Linked DNA regions of Homo sapiens. The protein of the gene in region 7 purifies or fractionates together with the protein of the main gene of each other region. This does not show direct contact. Each region holds a gene or a part of one and is shown on either strand. Other genes may lie near its edges. The genes, in order: ANAPC4, AHCYL2, USP47, PPP2R5E, PPP2R5A, SIL1 and KNDC1.

Region 1 (3,500 bases), on a different chromosome or scaffold from region 7:
CTGCCTGCATGGACCTTTCTAGTTACAAGGCCACAAAAATAACCTGGTTCCCTCACCCCTACCCAAGTCTCAAATCAAGTGCTGCAGAACCAACATATTCCACAGAGCCTACAATATTTTCTACCCCTTTTGCGAGTGTAAGAGTCTGATGAAAAAGCTATGGAGAAGACTGAGACGTAGCAACTATAGTACAGTCAGTACTGGACTTAAGAATGCTTCTGAAGATTTACATTCCAATCACAAATTGAAGCTCTTTTACATCTCACACTAGAAAAACATCAAATCATAATCAAGTGTATCATACTAATCTTTCTGTTAAAGAAAAAGAAAAAAAAACTTGACTAATTCCACAAATAGCTCCCAATCTTTATAGACATATCACAATTATTTTATCTTAGTAAGGAAATTAGTCTCTGAACATTTAAGAATAATTCCAAAAATCGAAACTGAAAAAAAACCTAGTGTTTTATTCTTTTTCCATAAGTACCTAGTATATTCTAAGAGAAATAATTTAGGAAGAGAAAATGTTAAAGAAATCTTACCCCTGTGACTCGAGCAATTTTAAACATTCCATAAGCATAAAGCTCAATAAATCCAGAGCTTCCTCCAAGGACGAGAATATTAAGCCTAATTAAAAACAATGCAACAAGCTGAGAACCAATCAACAACACAGATGATTGCATTGTTAAAGCGAGATATAAATTATTACTGCTTTCATATAATCTACATGCTAAAGCTCCCCTGCAGAGGGAAGTGAGACATCAAATCCACTAACACTCAATATTCAGTCACATCAGGCTCATTCCTTTTTTCAAAGAACACAAATTTCCTCTAGCCTAAAAAAAAATCAGCTTACAGTAAAATAAGAATACATTATTTTAATAACAACTATATTTATACACTCTCAATAACAAAACAATCCTTTTACCAACTAATACAAAGTGCCATCAGTTTTATCATGGTTATGATGCTAAATATATTAAATGGGCTTAAAAAACATGAATACTTAAAATTTTAGAAACTCTAGTACTTATATCCTTTAACTTATTAAAATAAACATATGTACATCATATTATTATTAAAACTTCATAAAACGAAAGGCCACACAATAAAAACAATAATAGATATTAAGGTCTATATATTGTTTGAAGGTATTAATGTCAACGATAAGGCCAGGTGCGGTGGCTCATGCCTGTAATCCCAACACTTTGGGAGGCCAAGGCGGGTGGATCATCTGAGGTTGGGAGTCTGAGACCAGCCTGGCCAACATGGTGAAACCCCGTCTCTACTAAAAATACAAAAATTAGGCCAGGCGCGGTGGCTCACGCCTGTAATCCCAGCGCTTTTGGAGGCTAAGGCGGGTGGATCACGAGGTCAAGAGATCGAGACCATCCTGGCCAACATGGTGAAACCCCGTCCCTACTAAAAATAAAAAAATTAGACAGGCCTGGTGGCGGGTGCCTGTAGTCCCAGCTACTCGGGAGGCTGAGGCAGAAGAATCACTTGAACCAGGAAGGCGGAGGTTGCAGTGAGCCGAGATAACGCCACTGTACTCCAGCCTGGCAACAGAGCGAGACTCCGTCTCAAAAAAAAAAAAAAAAAATTAGCTGGGTGTGGTGGCGCGTGCCTGTAGTCCCAGCTACTCGGAGGAGGCTGAGACAGGAGAATCGCTTGTGCCCAGGAAGTAGAGGTTGTAGTGAGCCAATATCACGACACTGCACTCCAGCCTGGGTGACAGAGACTCCATCTCAAAAAGAAAACAAAAACAAAAAACAATGAAATAAAATGGCAAATAAAGGATTTGCTCTTAAAGCTTCTGAAAACTGCCTCAAATATGAAATAACTTTAAGAAATTAGACTTATTTATCTGTAAGATTTACCTGACGTCTCCCAAGAGCTTAATAATTTCATCAGAATTTTCTTCACTAAAATATAGAAGTAAATTGGGTCATCTTTCAATTCTGTCTTCCAAATAATAGCAGATTATCTTACTTGAAAACAAGAAAAGGCGTATCTTACCTAAATATTTTTGAGGTGTTGCTATAGCTAGAAGGAAACAGAGATTAAGGTAAAAAATACTCTTAGTAAAAATACATATTTTAAAACGCATGAGAAAATTGTCACAGTGTTAAAAGCAGAAGAAAGAGAAATCTGCAAGATTAATTTCAAAGAAACCAGTGATACATACTTTTTTGGCAGTGTAGGTAGTTTAGGTAAGAGAAGATTTGATTCATCCTCAGCATTATAAAATGATGTGAGAACACTAAAAAGGAAAAAATAAAAGCATTATAAAAACACCAAAGATTTTACTTCTCTTGCCATTAAAAATGCTAATTTTTAAAAAAGATACCCAGTTTTACAACATTATCAAGTAAATAGATGACACAAATACTATACAGTTGTAGTCAGTTTAACAGTCCCAAATAGGAAATTGAAAAGTAGGAATTTCTGTTATTTTAGGGGAAAAAAAACATCAGCCTGCACACGTTACATTTAGAGAAATGATATTAATAAACACTTTTCTTAGCATATGAAATGCATTCATATGTACTCAGATACTGAGAATTTATGATTTCTTAACTCTCATTTAAGAACTCACACCAAACATATGACTACTAAGAGTAGCACTATCTTTTATTTATGAGACAGGGTCTCACCCAGGCCGGAGTGCAGTGGTGTGATCATGGTTCACTGCAGCCTTCACCTTCTGAGCTAAAGCCATCATCCTGCCCCAGCCTCCTGAGTAGCTGGGACTACAGGTGCAAGCCACCACACCCAGCTAATATATACATTTTTTTTTTTAGAGATGGGGGTCTCACTATGTTGCCCAGACTGGTCTGAAACTCCTTCCTCCTGCCTCAGCCTCCCAAAGTGCTAGGATTATAGGCATGAACCACTATGCATGGCCTACTATGTGATTTAGTTATTGGTTCTATGACTTATACACACTTGTGGATTTGATAATCCAACAGGTATTTGAGACTACACCATGCCTTTTGAAATAGTCTTATTTACCCCCTTTTCCTTCTCAATTCTAACTCCAAATAAGGTTGGAAATAAATGAGTAAGCAAGTAAAAAAGTGGTGATTTAGCAAGTATTTTTTCCTACTTTAATAAAAAGGAGCTGTCTTGAGAGACCCTGGAATCGCCACATAACACTTCTAAACTGTTAGTAGAAAGTATGTTGGGAATACACACAGCAGATAACCGGGCTGGAATAGGAATTACATGATATGCTCTGACCCTCTAACATTCTACATATTCACATAACGATTTGTAATCCTTCATTATCTGATGATGGATTTATCACTCTGGTTTATCTACAGTGAATTTCAAACCCCAGGTCAAACCCTTGTCATCCAATTCTTTCAGGCTTCCCTTAGGAAAGCTGGCAATTAATATTCAGGATTTACAAATTCATTTGATATTACCTTAGTATAACTTAATTAGAAAGGAAAAGTTAATGGTAAGAAAATTAGCATATTTCCCCAAAAAAGAAA
Region 2 (3,500 bases), on a different chromosome or scaffold from region 7:
GAGTGAGTTAAGGAATTCATGAGAGGAAAAAAGCACATATAGCATGTACTGAAAACTCCTTTAAGAAGCATGCCTGTGAAAGAGAATAGAAAAACATGACAGCAACAGAAAATATGCAGGTCAAAGGACAGGGTTTTCAAAATGGGAGACAATAGGGCAAGTGTGAATTCTGAAGGAAAAGACCTAGTAGAAAGATGAAATAAACCAAAGGAAGAAATTCTTTAAGACAGGAGAGGCCAAGCACAGTGGCTCACACCTGTAATCCCAGCACTTTGGGAGGGTGAGGCAGAAGGACTGCTTGAAGCGAGGAATTCGAGGCCAGCCTGGGCAACAAAGTGAGACACCATCTCTACAAAAAGTTTTTAAAATGTGGCTGGGTGCAGCGGCTCATGCTTATAATCCCAGTACTTTCAAAGGCCAAGGAGGAAGGATCACTTGAAGCTGGGAGTTCAAGACCAGCCTAGGCAACATAGCAAGAGACCCCATCTTGGCCAGGTGTGGGCTCGCGCCTGTAATCCCAGCACTTTGAGAGGCCAAAGTGGGCAGATCACAAGGTCAGGAGTTCCAGACCAGCCTGGCCAACCTGGTGAAACCCCGTCTCTACTAAAAATACAAAAATTAGCCAGGCACAGTGGCGGATGCCTGTAATCCCAGCTACTTGAGAGGCCGAGGCAGCAGAATTGCTTGAACTCACGAGGCGGAGGTTGCAGTGAGCCGAGATAGTGCCACTGCAGTCCAGCCTGGGTGACAGAGTAAGGCTCCATCTAGGGGGAAAAAAGAGACCCCATCTCTACAAGAAAGTCATAAAAAAATTAGCCAGGTATGGTGGCATGCACCTATAGTCCCAGCTACTCGGGAGGCTGAGAAGGGAGGTTCTATTGAGCTCAGGAGGTTGAGGGTGCAATGAGCTATGACCACACCACTGCACTCCTGCCTGGGCTACAGAGTGAGACTTCATCTCTTGAAGAAAAATGAATGAAAACAAAGAGAAAGAGAGAGAAGAAAGATAGAAAAAGAAAGGAGGAGGAAGGGGGGAGGGGGAGAAAAGAATGATTACAGCACCTGTGAAGGGATTGGTCTTGACAGAATGAAGGAGAAAAAGATGAGTCCCAGATGCACATAGGTTTGTAGACTTGGGAGGTAAAAGAATGAAGGAATTCCCATTCAGCAGCTTCCATTTTTATAATGAGGCATAAAGCCTATGACTGGTTAAAAAAGAAGAAAATATGAGAGATTAGAAATAAGAGCTGGGCACGGTGGCTCATGCCCATAATCTCAGCACTTTGGGAGGCTGAGGAGGGCGGATCACGAGGTCAGGAGATTGAGCCATTCTGGCGAACACGGTGAAACGCCATCTCTACTAACAATACAAAAATTAGCTGGGCGTGGTAGTGCGTGCCTGTAGTCCCAGCTACTCATGAGGCTGAGGCAGGAGAATCGCTTGAACCCGGGAGGCGGAGGTTGCAGTGAGCGGAGATCGCGCCACTGCACTCCAGCCTGGGGACAGAGCAAGATTCCATCTCAAAAAAAGAGAAAAAGAAATAGAGACAGTAGGCCAGGCACAGTGGCTAATGCCTATAATCCCAGCACTTTGGAAGGGTGAGACAGGAGGATCACTTGAGCCCGAGAATTGGAGACCTGCAACATGGCAAGATACCGTCTCTACAAAAAAATAAAAAAATAGCCAGGCGTGGTAGCACACTTGTAGTTCTGGCTACTCAGGAGGCTGAGACAGGAGGATTGCTTGAACCAGGGAGTTTGAGGCTACAGTGAGCTGTGACTGTACCACTGCACTCCAGCCTGGGTGAGAGAGGGAGACCTTGTCTCAGTAAAAAAGAAAAGAGAAAGAGACAATATGAAGAAATAATTCGCAGTGAGCTGGAAAGTGAACTAGAGAAATGTATAACATTGCTAGGTAATGCTGATTATGCATATGAAATAGATGATTATAAATTTTTAATGACACTGATCTGTCTAATTTGCTGATTTTCTCTAGCAACTCTCAGCTCCATGAGTGCCAGCAACTAAGAAGGTAGATGGTTAGGTTCAACCCGTACATCACTCCAAGTTCTACAAGCAGCAGAAGTCAACACTGGCTGAATTAAACAGAAAAAGAATTTACAGAAAGGATATGAGGTCACTTTTTCAGTGAAGAACTTAAGTGCTACACAGCTAAAACAACACTCAAAATTACAGAACTGGGTTGGCAAAGATGTGATTGCTAATGCCAAGCAGGAGATGCTGCAGCTTGGTTTGCACCATCACAGTTCTGGATACTAAGTGCTAACACTTGCCACTGTTGCCCTTATAACTTGATCTTGCTGCTAGAGACTGATACTACATGTGAATCTGCTGATCAAGGAGGGGGATATTGTAAAGAACATGGTGGAACAGTTTGAGGGACTGAATCAGCTGAAGGATGAAGAGAGTGGTAAAGGAATTAGTATTGGGAAGATAATGGATGGCGGATGGCGGGTAGTGACTGAAACAAACAGGGATGTGAGGCATGGTGTTTAGGCCTCCCCTTGAAAGAGGCTAGATTGTGAGATCCAAAGTGGTCTTAGCAGCAGCTTAAGCAGACTTCAGTGGGAGTCTGGTCAGAGCAGCACGGGTGTTGGCACAGAGGCAAAGCTGCCCAATATTGCTATGGCCAGCATTTCATTGACAAAGCCTTGGACAAGTTAATTACTCTCTTTGAGCCTATATTTTCTTATCCATAATATAAAGATAGTACTACACATCTGATAAAGTTGTCATGAGGATTAAATACTAAGACAGAGATTCCTGACACGGAGTAAGTATTCAGTAAATGGTAGCAATTATAAGTGACACTGAAGCCAAGAGAAGAGTTTCCAAGAAAAGGTAGTCAATAGATGAAGTTTCACCTTGGAGCACTGTAGAATGTAAGTGTGTGCAGAGAAGATGAAGCTAGTTTTAGCCTCAGGTTTGCAACATTCAGAAAGGCTAAAGTCCTATACTCAGAGAAACTCAATCAGCAGTTCAAATACCCTTCCTTTATATAGGTTCTAAGCTAAGAACTAGGTGCCCCAAACCAATAGATTTCTACTGATAGACCCTTGAAAAAAAAAAAGAAAATAAAATCACCAGCTTTTAGTGCAAGCGTCCAAGAGGGAAATAGCTAACTGAACTGTTGCACGATACAGCTGGGGAAAAGGGAGACTGAAACCCATACAAATAATCATCTAATTTAATCAAAGTAATTTTAGAGTTGGGAACTGTTACAGAAGAAACGTCAATCCACTGCCGCTTTCTGCTCTGCTCTCACCAAATCGCAGGCCATAGGTCATTCAGACTATAAAAAGCTCCTACAAATTCCATAGAAATCTGATCAAGTTTACTAAACCTCTTGTTGGGTGAATGGAATTTCAGCTCCTCTAATTGTGTCTACCACCTAAACATGACAGCAGGGCAGTGGATCAGGGCAACTGCCAAGATTGTTCTCTTCCCATCTGCCTCAGTTGTACCTCTCTAAATTATTT
Region 3 (3,500 bases), on a different chromosome or scaffold from region 7:
AATCATGGCAGATAGTTGAACTGCAATTATGATAACTCAACAGGATCAATTTTATTTACATGCTGAATAAATGAATGAAACATATTCTCTACATCCATAACTTAAGTACAATCAGTTATAATTACAACACTGCAGCAATCTGAGCTGCCACCTGCTGGGATCGGTCTAAGGGAAACGTTCTGATGTTCCAGAATAATGTTCTTAATACTCTGCAAAAAATGAAACAAAATAAAAACACAACTTCACAATTCCTTACTGGGTTACGGCTGGTTCCAAGAATTTCTTTTCTTCAGCTCCTGTTTTTGCTGCTTTCCAAGAGTCAACACACGTTGGATTTACTTCTGAATTGTCAATGAGGTAATGTGTGCATCAGTGAAATAAACAGAAAATTCATTCATTCATGGCCTTTGCACAGCTTTTATTATTAAGCTATGAGCATCCTGTTTGAGGCTAGTTTTACTAGCGGCTATGTGCACATTTGTCCGCAATAAAAGAAGTTTACTCATTCCCCTGTCCCCTTTTCTAATAGAAGGTTAGCTTTTTTTGTTGTTTTTTTTTATTTTTTTGCACATCCCTTTTCACTTTACAGTACATTTGACTATAGTGCACAACATGATTCCGAGTCAAAACAGTGGCCCATTGGGCACTGAGCTTCTGATTGGTGTAGGGCAGTCCAATCAGTGCTGGTGTCACTGGGTTACCCCAACCATGTCCGGCCAAAATGGCACTACCCAGTGGTAGTGAACCATCTAATTAAAACCAAAACTCCCCCAGGGAAAATGCTACACTATCAGAGTCAGTCTTGAGTCAGATCTTTATTTGGTGCTCCATCCAGATATATTTTTAGTGCTTTCTCTTTACGAGGTGAGTATGTTACACGATGTCCAGTCTTCTGGAGTCGACTGCTTTCTTTTTTCATCAGTTCATTTCTTTGCTCATCTGTCAATTCCATTAATTCTTCTGTTTTATCCCTACATATAAAATATTAATCACATATTAGTCCAGTAGAGCCCTCCACCTCTATTAATGTATGCTTGAATGCTATGATGCTCCTCAGCAAGATAATGAAATCTGTTACTGGTGAAGTAATATTATTTTATATACTGAGATGTCCCAGATTTCTAAGGTGTTAATCACAGGAACATATTGCTTACTTCTAAAAGTGGCGGAGAATAACTTCCATGTTATTAGCAGTAGTAACAGCTATCATTATTGAACATCTATAATAGGCACTGTGCCAGTTATTTTACATGCAACAGCTCTAATTCTCATAAAATCCTGCAAGGTAGACATCATTGTTGCAATTTTATAGATGAGGAGCTAGGTAAATCAGAAAGCTAGTTTTGAACCCAGATTTGTGAGGCTCCAATGACTATTCTTTTTCCTCTACATCTGTGCTGTCCAATACAACAGCCATTAGCCACATGTGGCTATTGAGCTTGTGAAATATGCCTGGTTCAAATTGAGATGTGCTGGAAATATAACAGACATACAATATTTCTAAGACTCAGTACAATAAAAAAATGCAAAATACAAATGATTTTTTATACTGATGACATGTAATGATCATATTTTGGATATATTGGGTTTACAATATTTTTAAAATTAATTTCACCTGTTTCTTTTTATTGTTTTTAATGTGGCTACTAGAAAACTTCAAATTATAATCATGTTTGGCTGTCACTGTATTTCTACCGGTTAGTGCCGCTCCATATCATAAAAACAGTAAAGATATTTATGGAAAATAAGATATGTATGCACGCCAAAAATGTATTACTAACAGCAACAAAAACATTGTGAATGTTACCTATAAAATATGACCGCACCATCATCACAGATATAAAGAGGCCAGACATTCAGGGTAGAAACTTTAGGATTCCAGTCTAAATCCTGATGAATATCAAGGACAGAAATATCACAGGGAAATGTTCCTCTACCCTAAAAAGAAAAAGAATGAATGAATAAATCATGCCACTAGCTGTGTTTATCATGCACAATACACAGATGCAACATTCTCAGGGCTTTACCTTAGCAAATTCAATATCATCCAAAGGAATCCCACTGATTTCACTAAGCTGTAAAATAAAACATTTTATTTGAGTTCATTTAAAAAATTAACTTGCTTAGAAAAGTTATTTTCCTTTTACCCCACAAACAGAAATAGCTCAGTTTAAAAAATGTTTCATGTAAAAAAATTAAGAAAAAGCAGAAAGCGGCCACCCTGCAAATACCATGTCCCAGAAATACCAAGTTAGTATATTCCTTCCAGACCTTTTCCTATGCATACACAAACTACACCCACGTTTCTAAAACATGTAAAATCAGATTAATATCTCTATATAATAATTCTGTTCCTAGAGGAATAGGATACAAAGTGACCACATTCTCTTCAATAACCGAACAATATACATTTTATCTCCTACTGATGGACACTGAGACTGTTTTCAGTTTTTCCAAGTTACAAAGCTCTACTGTATACTTCCATGAATATCCTCGCACATGGTGAAACCCCGTCTCAACTAAAAATACAAAGAATTAGCCGGGCGTGGTGGCATGTGCTTGTAGTCCCAGCTACTCGGGAGGCTGAACCAGGAGAATCACTTGAACCCGGGAGGCGGAGGCTGCAGTGAGCCAAGATCGCACCACTGCATTCCAGCCAGGGCAATAAGAGTGAAACTCCGTCTCAAAAATAAATACATAAATAAATAAATTCTTTTTTCTTGAGACAGAGTCTCACTCCATCACCTAGACTGGAGTGCAGTGGTGCAATCTTGGTTCACTGCAACCTCCACCTCCTGGGTTCAAGCAGTTCTCCAGCTTCAGCCTCCTGAGTAGCTAAAATTACAGGCATGCACCACCACACTTGGCTAATTTTTGTATTTTTAGTAGACACAGGGTTTCACCATGTTGGCCAGGCTGGTCTCGAACTCCTGAACTCAAGTGATCTGCCCACCTCAACCTCCCAAAGTGCTGGGATTACAGGAGTGAGCCATGGCACCCAACCTGCAAATACTTCTACAGATCGAATTCCCAGATGTTTAATTGCAAATCCGAAATACTGACAAATGATGCCAACTGAACTTGAAAAAAATCATATCAATTTATACACTTATCAAAGGTATATATTGTCTGTATCCCCTAAACCTTGAGAACTCTAGGTATTTTTTGATTTTCTAAATCTTCACCAATTTAAGAGTGAAAAATAACGTTATTCTTTAATTTGTATTTCTTTTTCTATAAATTGCCTATTCATGCTGTCTTTCTTAAAATTAGATTTGTTCCGTCTTTTTCTTATTAAGGTAGTAGCTCCTTATAAATTATGGACAGCATGTTTAATAACTGCTTCAAATAATTTCCTCCTAGTTTATTGTCTTTTAGCTTTGTTTATGAGTTGCTTTTTAAATACCTTTTTCTTTGGCTATGCAGAGGATAGGTTTTTACGTGGTCTATAGTTTCTTTTTTTGGCTTCTGGTATTATGCTTACAAATATCTTTTTCCAG
Region 4 (3,500 bases), on a different chromosome or scaffold from region 7:
CTCACCGCAACCTCCGCCTCCCAGGTTCAAGCGGTTCTCCCTTCTCAGCCTCTTGAGTAGCTGAGATTACAGGTGCATGCCACTGCGCCTGGCTAATTTTTGTATTTTTAGTAGACACAGGGTTTCACCATGTTGGCCAGGCTAGTCTCGAACTCCTGACCTCAAGTGATCCACCCACCTCGGCCTCCCAAAGTGCTGGGATTACAGGTGTGAGCCACCGGGCCCAGCCCTTTTTTTTTTTTTTTTTAAAGGACGGAATCTCACTCTGTCACTCAGGCTGGATGGAGTGCAATGGCGGGATCCTGGCCCACTGCAACCTCCACCTCCCAGGTTCAAGCGATTCTTTCACCTCAGCCTCCCGGGTAGCTGAGATTACAAGCACCTGCCATCATGCCCGGCTAATTTTTGTAATTTTGTAGAGACTGAATTTCACCATGTTGTCCAGGTTGGTCTTGAACTCCTGACCTCAAGTGATCCACCCATCTCAGCCTCCCAAAGTGCTGGGATTACAGGCGTGAGCCATTGCACCTGGCCAAGATAAGACTTTTCTTAACTGATTTTATTTTCTTTAGCACATATTCCCATTTTCATGAATATTGTATATGGGAATTTTAGAATTTGTATAACTCACATGTATGCTTCCACCTTGGGAATGTATGGGTTTATGATACTTCTTTCTCTTCAGTAGGGATATGTCCTCAGCACCAACTACTCCTCCATCAGTGGATAAAGTAGACGGATTTTCTCGGAAGTCCGTCAGAAAAGCCAGACAGAAGAGGTCGCAAAGTTCCTCACAGTTTAGGTCTCAAGGCAAGCCTATTGAGTTAACACCTCTGCCGCTGCTAAAAGGTAAGGCTCATGACCAGGTGATGCATTCTTTTTCAATTGATCTTTCTACATCTATATATAATTTCCTTTTTGTAGAGTTTTATATGTGTTGCAAATTGAAGGGATGGGATACTTCACATACATTGAAGTTACTAATGTGTGACCAAATATACCCACTCTCCTTTTTAAAGGCTCAATTTAGTCTGTCTTTGGGCAAGTTAAAAGAAACATTATCAGGAGAATATCTCACATTGATGAGTAGGTAAACTAAGTACTAGAGAAACTTTAAGATGTCTGGGTTTGTGTTTTTCATTTTTTCTTCTGTTGACGTTTAGGGATACATTATATACAATGACAACTACAGATTATGGTCTTAGGAAGTAGACCCTAGTAGAGGAGATGGTACCATTCATTAATTTACATATAGAAAATGGTATTTGGAAGAATTCGTTTTTAAAAATCAAGAAAAAAATGGTCCATTTATAGTTGTTTACATGCACTCTTGTTTTCACATAGTACAAGTAGAAAAGATATACCTTTCTATGTACAAGTATGATGATCATACTTGTTTAGTATGATCTTTTCTTTGAAATTTGTTAATTTTTTAATTTTAATTTTTATCTTTTGAGATAGAGTCTCCCTCTGTTGCTCAGGCTGGTTCACAGCAACCTCCACCTCCTGGGTTCAAGTGATTTTCCTGCCTCAGCTTCCCGAGTAGCTGGGAGCACAGGTGCCCGCCACCATGCCCAGCTAATTTTTGTATTTTTAATAGAGACAGGGTTTCACCATGTTGGTCAGGCTGGTCTTGAACTCCTGACCCCAAGTGATCTGCCCACCTTGACCTCCCAAAGTGCTGGGATTACAGGTGTGAGCCACCGTGCCTGGCCTGAAATTTGTTAAAAACAAGTTTTTTGGTTTTTTAAATTTTCTTTTGAGACAATCTCATGCTGTCACTCTGGCTAGAGTTCAGTGGGGACAGAGTGAAAGTGCAGGTTGAGGCCGGGCGTGGTGGCTCACGCCTGTAATCCCAGCACTTTGGGAGCCCGAGGCAGGCAGATCACGAGGTCAGGAGTTTGAGACCAGCCTGGCCAACATGGTGAAACCCTGTCTCTTCTAAAAATACAAAAATTAGGCGCGGTGGTGGCACCTGTAATCCCAGCTACTCGGGAAGCCGAGGCAGGAGAATTGCTTGAACCGGGAGGCAGAGGTTGAAGTGAGCCCAGATCGTGCCATTGCATTCTAGCCTGGGTGACAGAGCAAGACTCTGTCTCGGGGGAAAAAAAAAAAAGAAAGTGCAGGTTGGGGCTCACTGTGGCCTCTATTTCCTAGGCTCAAGTGATCCTCCCTTTCCCGAGTAGCCGGGATCAACTTCCCGAGTAGCTGGGACTACAGAAGCATGCCATCACGCCCAGCTAATTTTTCCATTTTTTTGTAGAGATGGAGTTTTGCCATGTTGCACAGGCTGGTCTCGAATTGCCATGGTGTTCCCATGCCAGGATTTAGGCGTGAGCCACCATGCCCGGCCCAACACGTTTTTAATATGAAGAATTTTTTCTAAATTAGGCATTTCAACTTTTGTTTGGGTATGTGGTTACTTTTTGTCCCTTTTAATTTTCATCATGTTTGCTTCATGTTTATGAACAGGTGTTGTTTGAAAAATATCAGAACATAGCTTTTATAGTGTGGAAACTATCAGAATTTACCTTTGAGGTGGATGTTTATGTGCTGAATACTGAAGAATGGGAGAAAGGGGATATGAACAACACAATGAGCTTTAGTGTGGCTTGGAGGAAACCAGGCAACCTGGTTTGCTAGTTCATTATTGCAGACTTATTTCTGTAACAGTTTGTGAAATCAGAAGGTATTATAAGAAAAACTGGAATGTAACCGGAAAAGATCCTCAAAATTTAGCTTAGGATATTTCAAGCTTCTATTTTTTCCATATGAATACTTTTTTTAAAAAAGAGAGAGAGATTCATAAATAAGATTCCAATGTTTATACAAAATTTTTGGAAACTGAATACTGATTACTGTAAAGATGATATATCTACCAGTCAGTAAAGATGAGCTCCTGTGAGCTTTGGGGGAGAAAATTTTGACTAGAGATTTTGCTGGTAAAAATGAAAATAGTCATTATGAGGCTTTGGAAAGAAAATGTAGGAAACACTGTAGATTGAACTATGCTTGAAATACAAAGTTGGGAGACACTGGTTTTTAGTAATCTATTTAATCTGAAGTAGATATGTAATGGGTGTTAACTTCTGTATCTGTAAAGGACTTCATTCTGAGGAAGCCAGTTAAATTTTTTTTTTTAGAATTAGAAGGAATTTAAAAACTTACACTAATTTCTTGGATCTTATGGTAAACAATTAAATTAGGACTTCACTGACCACTCATAGTCAGGGTATTGGTTTTGTGGGTAGTGAAAGAAGCATGCATGAGAAGAATTTGGACACATGCTTTAATGTATTTTTTCTTTAATGCTTTCATGTCTTTTTTCTCATTTTAAAAAATTATGGTAAAATATACATAACATGAAATTTACCATCTTAACCATGTTTAAATGTGCATTAAGTGCCTTGACATTGTCATGCAACTGTCCCTACCATCCATCTCCAGAACCTTTTCATCTTCCCCAACTGAAGCTCTGTACCTGTTAAACACTGACTCCC
Region 5 (3,500 bases), on a different chromosome or scaffold from region 7:
AAATTATAAGTAGCTCAGAGCTTTTGTTAGTTTATTACTCAAGCCTGTAATCCCAGCACTTTGGGAGGCTGAGGCAGGCAGATCACCTGAGATCAGGAGTTCAAGACCAGCCTGGCCAACATGATGAAACCCCATCCCTACTAAAAATACAAAAATTAGCCGGGCGTGATGGCGGGCACCTGTAATCCCAGCTACTTGGGAGACTGAGGCAGAATTGCTTGAGGCAGGAGAATGGCTTGAACCCAGGAGGGCAGAGGTTGCAGTGAGCCGAGATCACAGCACTGCACTCCAGCCTGGGCAACAGAGTGAGACTCCGTCTAAAAAGAAAAAAGTGCAGAGTGGAAGAATTAACTAAATATTCATTACAGCTAAGTTTCCATGTAAAGAGGAAAAAAATGAAGAGTCGGCATGACTTTCAAAACTTTTATTTTTTTGGCAGTGTAAACCTTTCCTTCCACTCAAAGCTGCATTTTTATAAAACAAGCAAAACAAAACAAAACACCGTTCTTATTCCAAGAAAATCTAACTTGAGCCCCAAAATAATTTTTTTATTTTTCTTTTTTATTTTATTTTATATTTTATTTTATTATTTTATTTTTATTTTATTTTATATTTTATTTATTTTTTTGAGACAGAGACTCACTCTGTTGCCCAGGCTGGAGTGCAGTCAGTGGCACCATCTCGGCTCACTGCAACCTCCACCTCCTGGGTTCACGCAATTCTTGTTCCTTAGCCTCCTGAGTAGCTGAGATAACAGGCGCCCGATACCACGCCCGGCTAGGTTTTTTTTTGTATTTTTAGTAGAGATGGAGTTTCATCATGTTGCCCAGGCTGGTCTCAAACTCCTAAGATCAGGCAGTGTGCCTTCCTTGGCCTTCCAAAGTGCTAGGATTACAGTTGTAAGCCACTGCACCTGGCCCACATTGACATCTTTTTGGGGGCCACTAGTCAACCCAGTGTTCGTTATTCAATACTGCCCGACATTGAAATTTGTGTATGATGAGGGTAAGGAACTACATTTGGGTTTGTTTGTTTGTGTTTTGGGTTTTTTTTTTTTTCAGACAGGATCTCACCACATCACCCAGGATGGAGTGCAGTAGTACGATTGTGGCTGACGGCAGCCCTGACCTCCCAGGCTCAGGTGATCCTCCTGCCTTAGCCTCCCAAGTAGCTGGGACTACAGGCATGCACCACCATGCCCAGCTAATTTTTTTGTATTTTTGGTAAAGATGAGATGGGGTTTCACCATGATGCCCAGGCTGGTATTGATCTCTTGGGCCCAAGCCTGCCTTGGCCTCCCAAAGTGCTGGGATTAAAGGCCTGAGCCACCATGCCTGGCCTGCATTCATTTTCAATTACGCATATCAAATGATCACAAAATTTATTGGCTTAAAATAGCAAGCATTTATGGCCTTTATCAAAGCTGCAGCTGCTTCCATGTAGCTGCTGTGGTCAAAAAGAAGCCAAGAGTGACAGTTTTCCTTGATGGTCATAGTTCTGTTTGCTGTAACTGATCTGCAAGATTTTGGGAAAATACCATTCCATTGGGAGGAAAAATGACAAGCATTTGTTGCCTTAGTTGCTGTGAATCCAGAATCTGGTCATGGCTTAGGTGGGCCCTCTGCTCAGGGTCTCTTACAAAGCTGCAGTTGGAGTGTTGGCCAGAAGTTGAGTCTCATATAAAGTGTCAGATGGGGAAGGATCTGCTTCTAAGTTCACATGTATGTTGGCAGAATTCAGTTTGTCAAGTTATGTTGGACTGAGAGCCTCAGTTCCTGGCTGGCTGTTGGCCAGAGCCCACCCTCAGATCCTTGTCACCCAGGCTTCTCCAGCATGGCACCTTACTTCATCAAAGCCAAGACAGCGAGTCTACTAGTAAGACAGAAGTCACAATCTTTTGTATCTTACTCATGAAGTGACATTCTTTCACTTTTGCCACAGTCTGTTCGTTAGAAGCAAGTCACTAGGACAGCTCACACTTAAGGAGAGGGGATTACACAAGGGTGTGAGGACAGTTAACAAGCTCATGAGATCATCATAGAAGTCTGCCAACCAAAGGAGCCTGCTACATTTTTCCTTTCTAAATAGTGAGCTACCTGTCCCAGTACCACCACTGTTTCCCATGGAACTGAAAGGCCACCTTTGTCATATATTAAAATCCATATATACATGAGTATATCTAGATACTCATATATATCTTTTCTCTCCATTTCTTTGCCAATATAATCTTGTTTTAGTTGCTGATATCCATAATACAGGTTCTGTTCCATTAACTCCCCCCACCAAAAAAACAATTCTTATTTGCTTATATTTATGGATTTTAGAATAAATGTTTCTAGTTCCAAAAAATAATTCAATTGGCATTTGATTGAAATTATATTAAATTTACTTATAAATTAAGTACAGGAAAAATATCTCTGCACAATATTGAACCACCTCACTTATTTACAGTCATGTGCTGCATAATGACATTTCGTTTAATAACAGGCTACGGGCCGGGCGCTGTGGCTCAAGCCTGTAATCCTAGCACTTTGAGAGGCCGAGGCGGGTAGATCACGAGGTCAGGAGATCGAGACCATCCTGGCTAACACAGTGAAACCCCGTCTCTACTAAAAATACAAAAAATTAGCTGAGCCTGGTGGCGGGCGCCTGTAGTCCCAGCTACTCAGGAGGCTGAGGCAGGAGAATAGCATGAACCCGGGAGGCAGAGGTTGCAGTGAGCCGAGATCGTGCCACTGCACTCCAGCCTGGGTGACAGAGCGAGACTCTGTCTCAAAAATAAATAAATAAATAAAAATAACAGGCTACATATAAAATGTCAGTCCCAGACAGGCGTGGTGGCTCAGGACTGTAATCCCAGCTACTTGGGAGGCTGGGGTAGGGGGATCTCTTGAGCCTAGGGGGTTGCAGTGAACTGTGATCACACCAGTGCACCCCAGCCTGGCCGACAATGCAAGTCTGGACTGTCTCTTAAAAAATAAAAATGGAACTGGGCATGGTTGCTCATGTCTGTAATCCCAGCACTTTGGGAGGCCAAGGTAGGAGGATTGGTTGAAGCCAGGACTTTAAGACCAGCCTGGGCAACAGAGCAAGACCTCGTTTCTACAAAAAGTAAAAAATTAAAATTAGCCAGATGTGGTGGCATACACCCGTAGTCCCAGCTACTTGGGAGGCTGAGGCAGGAGGATCATTTAAGCCTAGGAGTTCAAGGTTACAATAAGCCTAGGAGTTCAAGGTTACAATGACCTCTGATCATGTCACTACACTCCAGCCTAGGCAACAGAGTGAGGCCTCATCAAAAAGAGAGAGAAATGTTGAGAGAGAGAGAGAGAGAGAGAAATGTGATTCCAAGAGAAAGAAAAATGGTGATCCCATAAGATTATAATGCTATATTTTTACTGTACCTTTCGTGTTTAGATACACAAATACTATTGTTACAACTGCCTACAGTGCCTACGGTATTCAGTACAAGAACATCCTGTACAGGTTTGTAGCCTAGG
Region 6 (3,500 bases), on a different chromosome or scaffold from region 7:
TCCTGGCCTCGAGATCTGCCGGCCTCGGCCTTCCAAAGTGCTGGGATTACAGGCGTGAGCCACTGTGCCTGGCCCTTTTTAAGAGGGTCTCACTCTGTTGCCCACGCTGGAGTATAGTGGTGTGATCATAGCTCATTGCAACCTCCAACTCCTGGGCTCAAGTGATCCTCCCACCTCAGCCTCCCAAGTAGCTAGGACCATGGGTGTGCACCACCATGCCTGGCTAATTTAATTTTTTTTTTTTTTTTTAAAGAGACAGGGTCTTGCTTGCAACATTGCCCAGGCTGATCTTAAATTCCTGGCCTCAAGTGATGCCCTACCTTGGCCTTCTAGAGCACTGGGATTACAAGTGTGAGCCACCATGCCCAGCTATACCAGTGGGCTTTTAAATGGACATTTCTTTACCTCTGGGGATAGTCTCATTTTTGTGAGGCTCCCAAGGGGAAAGCAGCCATCTGACCAAACTAGAAAACTAGCAGGCTTCAGCCCAGTGGAATAACATAAAGTAGGACAATCGATACAGACAACATTGATTGGCCATGCTTTGAGTGCTGTGGATAGTGTGTATTGGAAGCTTAAGGGGCCAGCTCATAAGTAAGTTGTAAGTAAGTATTTAAGGATGCTTTTTTTTTTTTTTTTTTTTTTTTGAGACAGAGTCTCACTGTCACCCAGGTGTGAGTGTGATCTTGGCTCACTGCAACCTCTGCCTCCCAGGTTCAAGTGATTCTTGTGCCTCAGCCTCCTAAGCAGCTGGGATTACAGGTGCTTGCCACCATGGCCGGCTAATTTTTGTATTTGCAGTAGAGATGGGGTTTTACCATGTTGGCCAGGCTGGTCTTGAACTCCTGACATCAGGTAATCTGCTCACCCCGGTCTCCCAAAGTGCTGGGATTACAGGTGTGAGCCACTGTCTCTGGCCTAAGGTTGCTTCTTGTTTTTCCCCACACCCCATCTCATACTCATGGGGAGTTGGGTTTGACTGTATTCTTGAAGTTAAGTCTCCATCCTTGGACCCAGCTGCTAAAGTCTAAAATGATTGTGTTTTGGGCTGGAAGATATTATAGAGATCTTTATTTCCTTGCAAACATCAGGGCTGGCTGTTTGTGGTACTGTGGATGAGTGAAGAGTCAGGAGATACACTTCTAGTTCTGTTACTGCCCAATGCCTCCATTTTGCATTTGATAGGTTTTTATTTTTCTGACGACAAAAACTGAGCCCCAGAGAAGTGAAGTGGGCCACGTAATGGTAGGATCTTTTTTAGGCCACCCACATAATAGTGGGACTCTAGTGTTAGAGCTGGGACACAGGCTAGGGGTCTTACAAAGGGTGGCCATAGAAGTTGTTAGAATTGTTTAAAGCATTGTAAAGATGCAGGATGCTTTTGCAGTTAAAAGTCTCCTGGGAAGGAGGAGGCCCTGTCTCCACTTACTGCCTTGTACATGATCTTATACCCTCATGGTTGAAGATTTTTGCTGTCGTGCTGTTTTTCCTCCTACTCATGTCGAAATGTGTTTCTCTTGCTCTTACCTCAGAGGAAATGAATTTGAAGCCTTCCTCCGTGTTAGAAACAAATAGTGCTCAGGCCAGACTTGTGTGTTTCTGTAAAGAATGAGGCCAGATGTAACAGTGGACCTTATCTGGTGATCCAAGCAAACCTTCAAGACATCTCTAAGAGAAAGAGAGAAGGAATGAGTGTATTTCAGAGTGGTTTAAACACACTTTGGAGTCAGACTCACTTGTATTTACGTTCTGATATCTACTTACTAGTTGTCAGATTGTAAGTTACTTATTTTCTCTAAGCCTTAGTTTTATGATCTGTTGAATGGGAATAGTAATATGTATTTTTATAGCTATCTTAAGAATTCAGAGAATAGATATGGTGCTTCCTCTGGCACAATGTAAAACAGCAGTCCCCAACCTTTTTGGCACTAGGGACTAGTTTCATGGAAGACTATTTTTCCATGGACTGGGGGATGTGGGGGATGGTTTGGGGATGATTCAAGCACATTATATTTATTGTGTACTTTATTTCTGTTATTATTATTTTTGAGACAGAGTCTCACTCCATCACCCAGGCTGGAGTTCAGTGGCACAGTCTTGGCTCACTGCAACCTCTGCTTCCCAGGTTCAAGCAATTCTCCTGCCTCAGCTTCCTGAGTAGCTGAGATTACAGATGTGTACCACCACACCCGCTAATTTTTGTATTTTTAGTAGAGATGAGGTTTCACCATGTTGACCAGGCTGGTCTTGAACTCCTGACCTCAGGTGATCCACCCGCCTGGACCTCCCAAAATGCTGGGATTATGGGCATCATGCCCAACCTATTTCTATTATTATTACATTATAGTATGTAATGAAATATACAACTCACCATAATGTAGACTTAGTGGGAGCCCTGAGCTTGTTTTCCTGCAACTAGACGGTCCCATCTGGGGGTGATGGGAGACAGTGACAGATCATCAGGCATTAGATTCTCATAAGGAGTGTTCAACCTAGATCCCTTGCATGCACAGTTCACAATAGAGTTTGTGCTCCTATGAGAATCTAATGCTGCCACTGATCTGACAGGAGGCGGTGCTCAGGCGTTAATGCAAGCGTTGGGGAGCAGCTGTAAATACAGATGAAGCTTTGCTCACTCACTTGCTGCTCACCTCCTTGGATGGGTTTCTGATAGGCTACAGACCAGTATCGGGGGTTTGGGACCCCTGATGTAAATGCTCTGTGTTGTCATCATTATTGACAACAATAGTTTCCAGTTTCTGAGCCACGTCGTAGTTTCAGGATAGGTTATGCTGACCAAGCAAGTTTTATCTTAACCATCACCTCATTGTTGTCTTAGTTGGTTTGTATTACATATTATTTATACCAATAGTTATAGGTATTTCATGCTGAATAACTAAAAGTTGTGAGTAGCAAGGAACTTTGCTGCTTCTCTGCCATCTCCTTCCTTACTCAGCTTAGTGCTTATCTTTCTCAGGTTCTCTCTTGTCAGGTGCTCAAGCCAGCAGGCCTTGTTTCGGGGGCAGTGTCTGATGAGGGGATTTTATTGGGGTAGGGCTGGCTAGTCCAGAGCCTGCCTGGTCCCTCAGATAGTATGTTCTCCTTATCTCTTGCTTTCTGCTCTTCAGCCAGACATGAAGCAATTAGCTCATCAAGGGAATGTTGACTTTTGTCACTGCTTTCCTCTGATTTGTATGCTCATTTCTGGTCCTTGTGCAAAGTCACGGAGGCACAGTCACATACACTGACCCAGATTTTGTGCTCAAGTTGACTGTCTCTCTCTTTGAGATGTACAACTGGTTCCATGTAGCAAGGGAGTGAGGAAAAAGCCCCTGGAGCCAATCCCATTATTTTGATCTCAAGTTGAGTTTTTAAAAAAATCCAAGCACTATGACTATAGACCATGCCTCACTTCTCTGTATGAAACAAATAAGGTAAAAAAAACTCACTATTTGGAGGGAAGGCCAATCTGAATTGGTAAACAATAGGAATTAGTACAT
Region 7 (4,018 bases):
GTCCAGGTCTGAGCACCAGGGTGCAGCGGGATCAGGCTCCTGGAGCAGAGTCTGCCTGCCACTTCCGCCTCCTTCCAAGACAGGGACTGGGGCGCTGCAGGCCCTGTGGGGCCCACAGAGAGAGAGCTCAGGGACAGCTGGCTGAGGCCACCCTCTGTGAGACTCCTCCTCTCCAGCTCCAGCCCACTCCACCTTGGCTTGCTGCCCAAGCTTCCAAACACCCAAGGATGGGGGAGGCTGCACCTGACTGCTGACTCGGTGGACCAGGGTGGGCCCCAGGGTGGGCATTTTCAATAAGGTGGGGCTGCCTGGCTGGACGCAGGGAGTCTGCCCAGCACCTGCCCCACTCCCAGCCTCCGGCTTCAGTGCCCACCTGGCTCCCGGGGAGCTGAGCCCCTGAACTCCCTGCCAGGCCAGAGTGACAGCCCGGGTGACCGACCAGGGGACAGAGTGCTGGGAATTCACGTCCCTGAACACACTGCACCCTCCCACTCTGCGGTCAAAAGCCCTGCTGCTCCTTCAAGCCAGGAGCATGGATTAAGTACCTACTGTGTGCCTGGCCAGCCACACGGACGGGGAGCTGACAGCCGGGCCCTGAAGCCGCCCTCTCTCCTGTGGGAGTTCTGGGGGTGGCCGGGGAAGGTGAGATTCTCCTCCACCCTCCCTGCCTCTTGGCCGAGCTTGGGGCTATCCTGGCTCTTCTGACCGCGGCACTACCGTGGGCCGGGGTCACCCTGGCGCTGAAGAAAGCCCCGGGGGGCCTTTGGGGCAGGAAGAGGTCAAGAGCCCCAGGACCCCCCAGGGTCCCCCAGGACCGGGGAGGGTCGGGTGCCCAGTGGGTCTCTCCGATGCCTCCAGGTGGGGATGAGGCAGCGTTATTGCCCCACCCCCAACATCCCCGGGCCTCCGAAAGACCCTCGCTCAGGAGAGACCCCGGCCCAGCGACCGCCCCGCCCCCCACCCCGGGCCCCGCCCCCCACCCCGGGCCCCGCCCGGCCCTGCCCAACGCCGCTGCAGAGGCCACCCCGGGACTGCGGCAGCCCCGCCCGGCAGCAGCGGGGGTGGGACGGGGGCGGCGGGAGCCGGCGAGGGGGTCTGCCCGTCCGAGCTTTCCTGGGCGCCGGCTCCGCCCCTCGACCCTTGGGGCCCAGGTGGGGCGCAGACCCCGTGGCTCCCCGCGGAGGCCACACGCCTGGCTCCGCCCCCGGTGCCTCCCCCAGGAAGGAGCGACGTTCCCTAGGCGCCGGGTCCGGACAGCGCCGCGCAGCCCCCGCGCACCCCGCGCCCCCCGCGCCCCCCGGGCCCGCCCCGTATCCCTGACCGCGTCCCCTGGAGACACTGCGGCAGCGGCGGGCGGGCGGGGGCGGGCGAGGGCCGGGCGCGTCTCCATGGAGCCAGGGCGCGCGTAGCCGAGCCCAGCCCAGCCCAGCCGGAGGCCCCGGGGGCGGTGCGCGGCGCGGCCGCAGGATGCAGGCCATGGACCCGGCCGCGGCGGATCTTTACGAGGAGGACGGCAAAGACCTGGACTTCTACGACTTCGAGCCGCTGCCCACCCTCCCCGAGGACGAGGTGAGCCCCCGGCCCCACTGGGGGGCCCCTTCCGCCGCCGAGGGGTCCGCGGAGAGCGCCCGGGGGGAGGACCCGGGAGGGGCTGTGAGCTCCCGCCTCCCCAGGCGCCCTCCATGGCCGAGGGGTTCCCACCGCCGTTCTCAGCCCCCGCGTTAGGATTTTCACCCGGAGGGGACAGCACCCCCGAATGCGCACGGGACGGCGGCGGGTGGGCAGCCCCTGCAGAAGTTGGTGCGCGGTAGCTCCTGGTGGAAACCCTGGCGGGACAGTGTGGGGGCAGCAAGGAGGACGGAGGGGGGTCTGCTTACTCCCTGCCGGGCCCCAGGAGGCCAGCGGGGTGCAGAGCAGCAGAGTCCAATCAGGCGCCGCTCAGGAGCTGGGGGATGAGGTCCCCGGAGCTGAGGTTCAGGAGCGGGGGGTGGGGGGAGCGCTGGATGACTGCCCCCCGAGACTGAGAGCTGCTTCCTGCTCTCTGGTTTTCCGGGCCTTCACCCAAGACCCCCCTACCCCGCAAGGTGCAGAGGGGCTCTGCCTGCCATCTGCATACCCTGGCGCTTCTGCTCATGGACCGCCCACCCTACAGCACCGGCTGCCCAGACGCCACCTTGGCTGGGTCTGACCCTGTAGCTCAGCTCTGGCTTGGCTGGGATGGAGTGGACAAGCCAGGCCCGGAAGCATGAGAGGTGGCCCCCAGGGGATACAGCAGCTCCCAGAGGGACCCTCACCCTCCAGGGATCCGAGATCTGCCAAACCTCCAACAGGCAAGAGCCCAGACGCTGGGCGCCTGCGTCTCCGGGTGACAGCGTCGTCACCTGCAGCCATTAGTGGGATGTTGTGGCGCCCTCTCTTTAAAGCCGGCCAAGTAAGCCTGGAGCAGGGAATCCCGGCTGCAGCAGCCGCGGGCCTGACCCCCTCGCAGTCCCCACCTGCTGCCCCAGGGGAGTGGGCTCTGAAGGGACCGGGAGTTTCTGCTGTGGAAGCACCGTCCTTCTGGGAAGGTTCAGCCCCAGGAGGCCCTCGGCCCAGCCACCTAGAAACAGCTGAGGCTGTGCGGGGGTTGGCGATGCCCCCGCCCCCACCATGGCCTGGATTCGGTGCAGTTGAAGGCTGCAGAGAGGAGCAGCCAGGGGAGGCAATAAAGCTTCCAAGATCACCTCGGCTCTGACCGAGAGGGAGGGGCAGCCCGCAGCCTTCAGAAACGCCCCAGGACACATCCCAGGGTATCTGTTAGGAGGCGGCCCTGAGGACGCAGCTCTTCCCACAGCTCCTTCGTGCATCAGAGGCCTGAGCCTTGAGGGCCTCCCCGCTCCGCACACGGAGGCAGCAGCCGGTGCCACGCACACAACACGCCGCGCCAGGCGCGAGCCCACTTGGAGCCACAGGCTGTCTTTCTGCACACTCCCCACTCCCGCTCCCCACCCCCACGCACACACCAGTGTCCTCGGGCCGGCCGGACAGCTCCCGGCCGGCACAGTACTGGGGTGGGTGGCTCCATCCTGTGACGTCCACCAAGGCCTCCAGGTGAACTGTCATCCCACCGAGTTTGCAGCGTGCAGTGGGAACGTTCAGGTGGGCCCTTCGCAGACACTCCTGGAAAGCATCGGGTGGTCCCTGGCCCAACCCTGTGCCCAGTACTGAGCCCAACACACCCCATGTCTCAGAATTCCCCTGGCGTTCAGACTCTGCTTCCCACACGTGTTTGGCTTGGAAGGTTCTGAAATCTCCATCGGGGCACCTGACTTGCATGGGAAAACCGTCCTGGGTGAGGTGAGGGCACGGTGAGGTTGCATCATCATCCCAGAATGCCGGAAGGCCAAGGGTGCAGGGCAGCTGCCGGGAAAGCACGGTGGCGCCAGGCCCAGGACATATGCAGGCTTCATAAGATGTAGGAACTCACTCATTCTACAGCTAATTATAATGGCTGGCTCCATGATGGGGTCAAGAAATAGACCCCTATGGACACCCACCGGAGCCCCTGGAATGTCCCTCCCTTGACATGGTCCCAAAGAAAATCCAAATGGCTGCTGAACATGTGAAAAGATGTTTGCTCATTGCAATCAGGAAAATGCAAAATACACCCCCACGAATGCCTTCCCAAGACCGCCAGGCTGGCAAGAACTGAAGAGCGGACAGCGGCTTGTGCTGGCAAGGACGGCGCAGCAGCTCTCCCTCGCGCCAGTGGGAGGACAAATGGAGCAGCCTCTTTGGAAAACAGCCCAGCATTCGCTGGTGAAGTAGAAGGCACCAGTGCCCTGTGTCCCAGCAACTTCACTATGGTGTGGGCCCCAGAGACACGTGGCCGTGCGTGTGTGAGAACACTCTCAGCTGGAACCTACCAGAGCATCAGCAAGTGGGCCAGCAGGTCCTGGAGGAAGTGACCAGGTTGGATCCCAGTACAGGCAAAGAACCACCAGTACACGATAGACAGGGAGATGTTCTGTGGGGGTGA

The links.
Region 1: the proteins of KNDC1 (region 7) and ANAPC4 purify together in Homo sapiens (affinity purification with mass spectrometry; one large-scale study listed by BioGRID and IntAct). This does not show direct contact.
Region 2: the proteins of KNDC1 (region 7) and AHCYL2 purify together in Homo sapiens (affinity purification with mass spectrometry; one large-scale study listed by BioGRID and IntAct). This does not show direct contact.
Region 3: the proteins of KNDC1 (region 7) and USP47 purify together in Homo sapiens (affinity purification with mass spectrometry; one large-scale study listed by BioGRID and IntAct). This does not show direct contact.
Region 4: the proteins of KNDC1 (region 7) and PPP2R5E purify together in Homo sapiens (affinity purification with mass spectrometry; one large-scale study listed by BioGRID and IntAct). This does not show direct contact.
Region 5: the proteins of KNDC1 (region 7) and PPP2R5A purify together in Homo sapiens (affinity purification with mass spectrometry; one large-scale study listed by BioGRID and IntAct). This does not show direct contact.
Region 6: the proteins of KNDC1 (region 7) and SIL1 purify together in Homo sapiens (affinity purification with mass spectrometry; one large-scale study listed by BioGRID and IntAct). This does not show direct contact.

What each region holds. Positions count from the first base shown.
Region 1 is NC_000004.12:25,387,263-25,390,762, reverse strand, and holds part of ANAPC4 (anaphase-promoting complex subunit 4), read right to left. Parts: intron 2,264-3,500; coding exon 2,189-2,263; intron 2,047-2,188; coding exon 2,020-2,046; intron 1,926-2,019; coding exon 1,881-1,925; intron 628-1,880; coding exon 543-627; intron 1-542. UniProt on the Homo sapiens protein: Component of the anaphase promoting complex/cyclosome (APC/C), a cell cycle-regulated E3 ubiquitin ligase that controls progression through mitosis and the G1 phase of the cell cycle.
Region 2 is NC_000007.14:129,231,530-129,235,029, reverse strand, and holds part of AHCYL2 (adenosylhomocysteinase 3), read right to left. Parts: intron 1-3,500. UniProt on the Homo sapiens protein: May regulate the electrogenic sodium/bicarbonate cotransporter SLC4A4 activity and Mg(2+)-sensitivity. On the contrary of its homolog AHCYL1, does not regulate ITPR1 sensitivity to inositol 1,4,5-trisphosphate.
Region 3 is NC_000011.10:11,953,472-11,956,971, reverse strand, and holds part of USP47 (ubiquitin carboxyl-terminal hydrolase 47), read right to left. Parts: intron 2,076-3,500; coding exon 2,028-2,075; intron 1,939-2,027; coding exon 1,808-1,938; intron 972-1,807; coding exon 797-971; 3' UTR 1-796. UniProt on the Homo sapiens protein: Ubiquitin-specific protease that specifically deubiquitinates monoubiquitinated DNA polymerase beta (POLB), stabilizing POLB thereby playing a role in base-excision repair (BER). Acts as a regulator of cell growth and genome integrity.
Region 4 is NC_000014.9:63,536,878-63,540,377, reverse strand, and holds part of PPP2R5E (serine/threonine-protein phosphatase 2A 56 kDa regulatory subunit epsilon isoform), read left to right. Parts: intron 1-684; exon of another isoform or gene 685-685; 5' UTR 686-692; coding exon 693-849; intron 850-3,500. UniProt on the Homo sapiens protein: The B regulatory subunit might modulate substrate selectivity and catalytic activity, and might also direct the localization of the catalytic enzyme to a particular subcellular compartment.
Region 5 is NC_000001.11:212,351,410-212,354,909, forward strand, and holds part of PPP2R5A (serine/threonine-protein phosphatase 2A 56 kDa regulatory subunit alpha isoform), read left to right. Parts: intron 1-1,408; exon of another isoform or gene 1,409-1,541; intron 1,542-3,500. UniProt on the Homo sapiens protein: The B regulatory subunit might modulate substrate selectivity and catalytic activity, and might also direct the localization of the catalytic enzyme to a particular subcellular compartment.
Region 6 is NC_000005.10:139,188,369-139,191,868, reverse strand, and holds part of SIL1 (nucleotide exchange factor SIL1 precursor), read left to right. Parts: intron 1-3,500.
Region 7 is NC_000010.11:133,159,001-133,163,018, forward strand, and holds the start of KNDC1 (kinase non-catalytic C-lobe domain-containing protein 1), read left to right. Parts: upstream 1-1,218; 5' UTR 1,219-1,467; coding exon 1,468-1,569; intron 1,570-4,018. UniProt on the Homo sapiens protein: RAS-Guanine nucleotide exchange factor (GEF) that controls the negative regulation of neuronal dendrite growth by mediating a signaling pathway linking RAS and MAP2. May be involved in cellular senescence.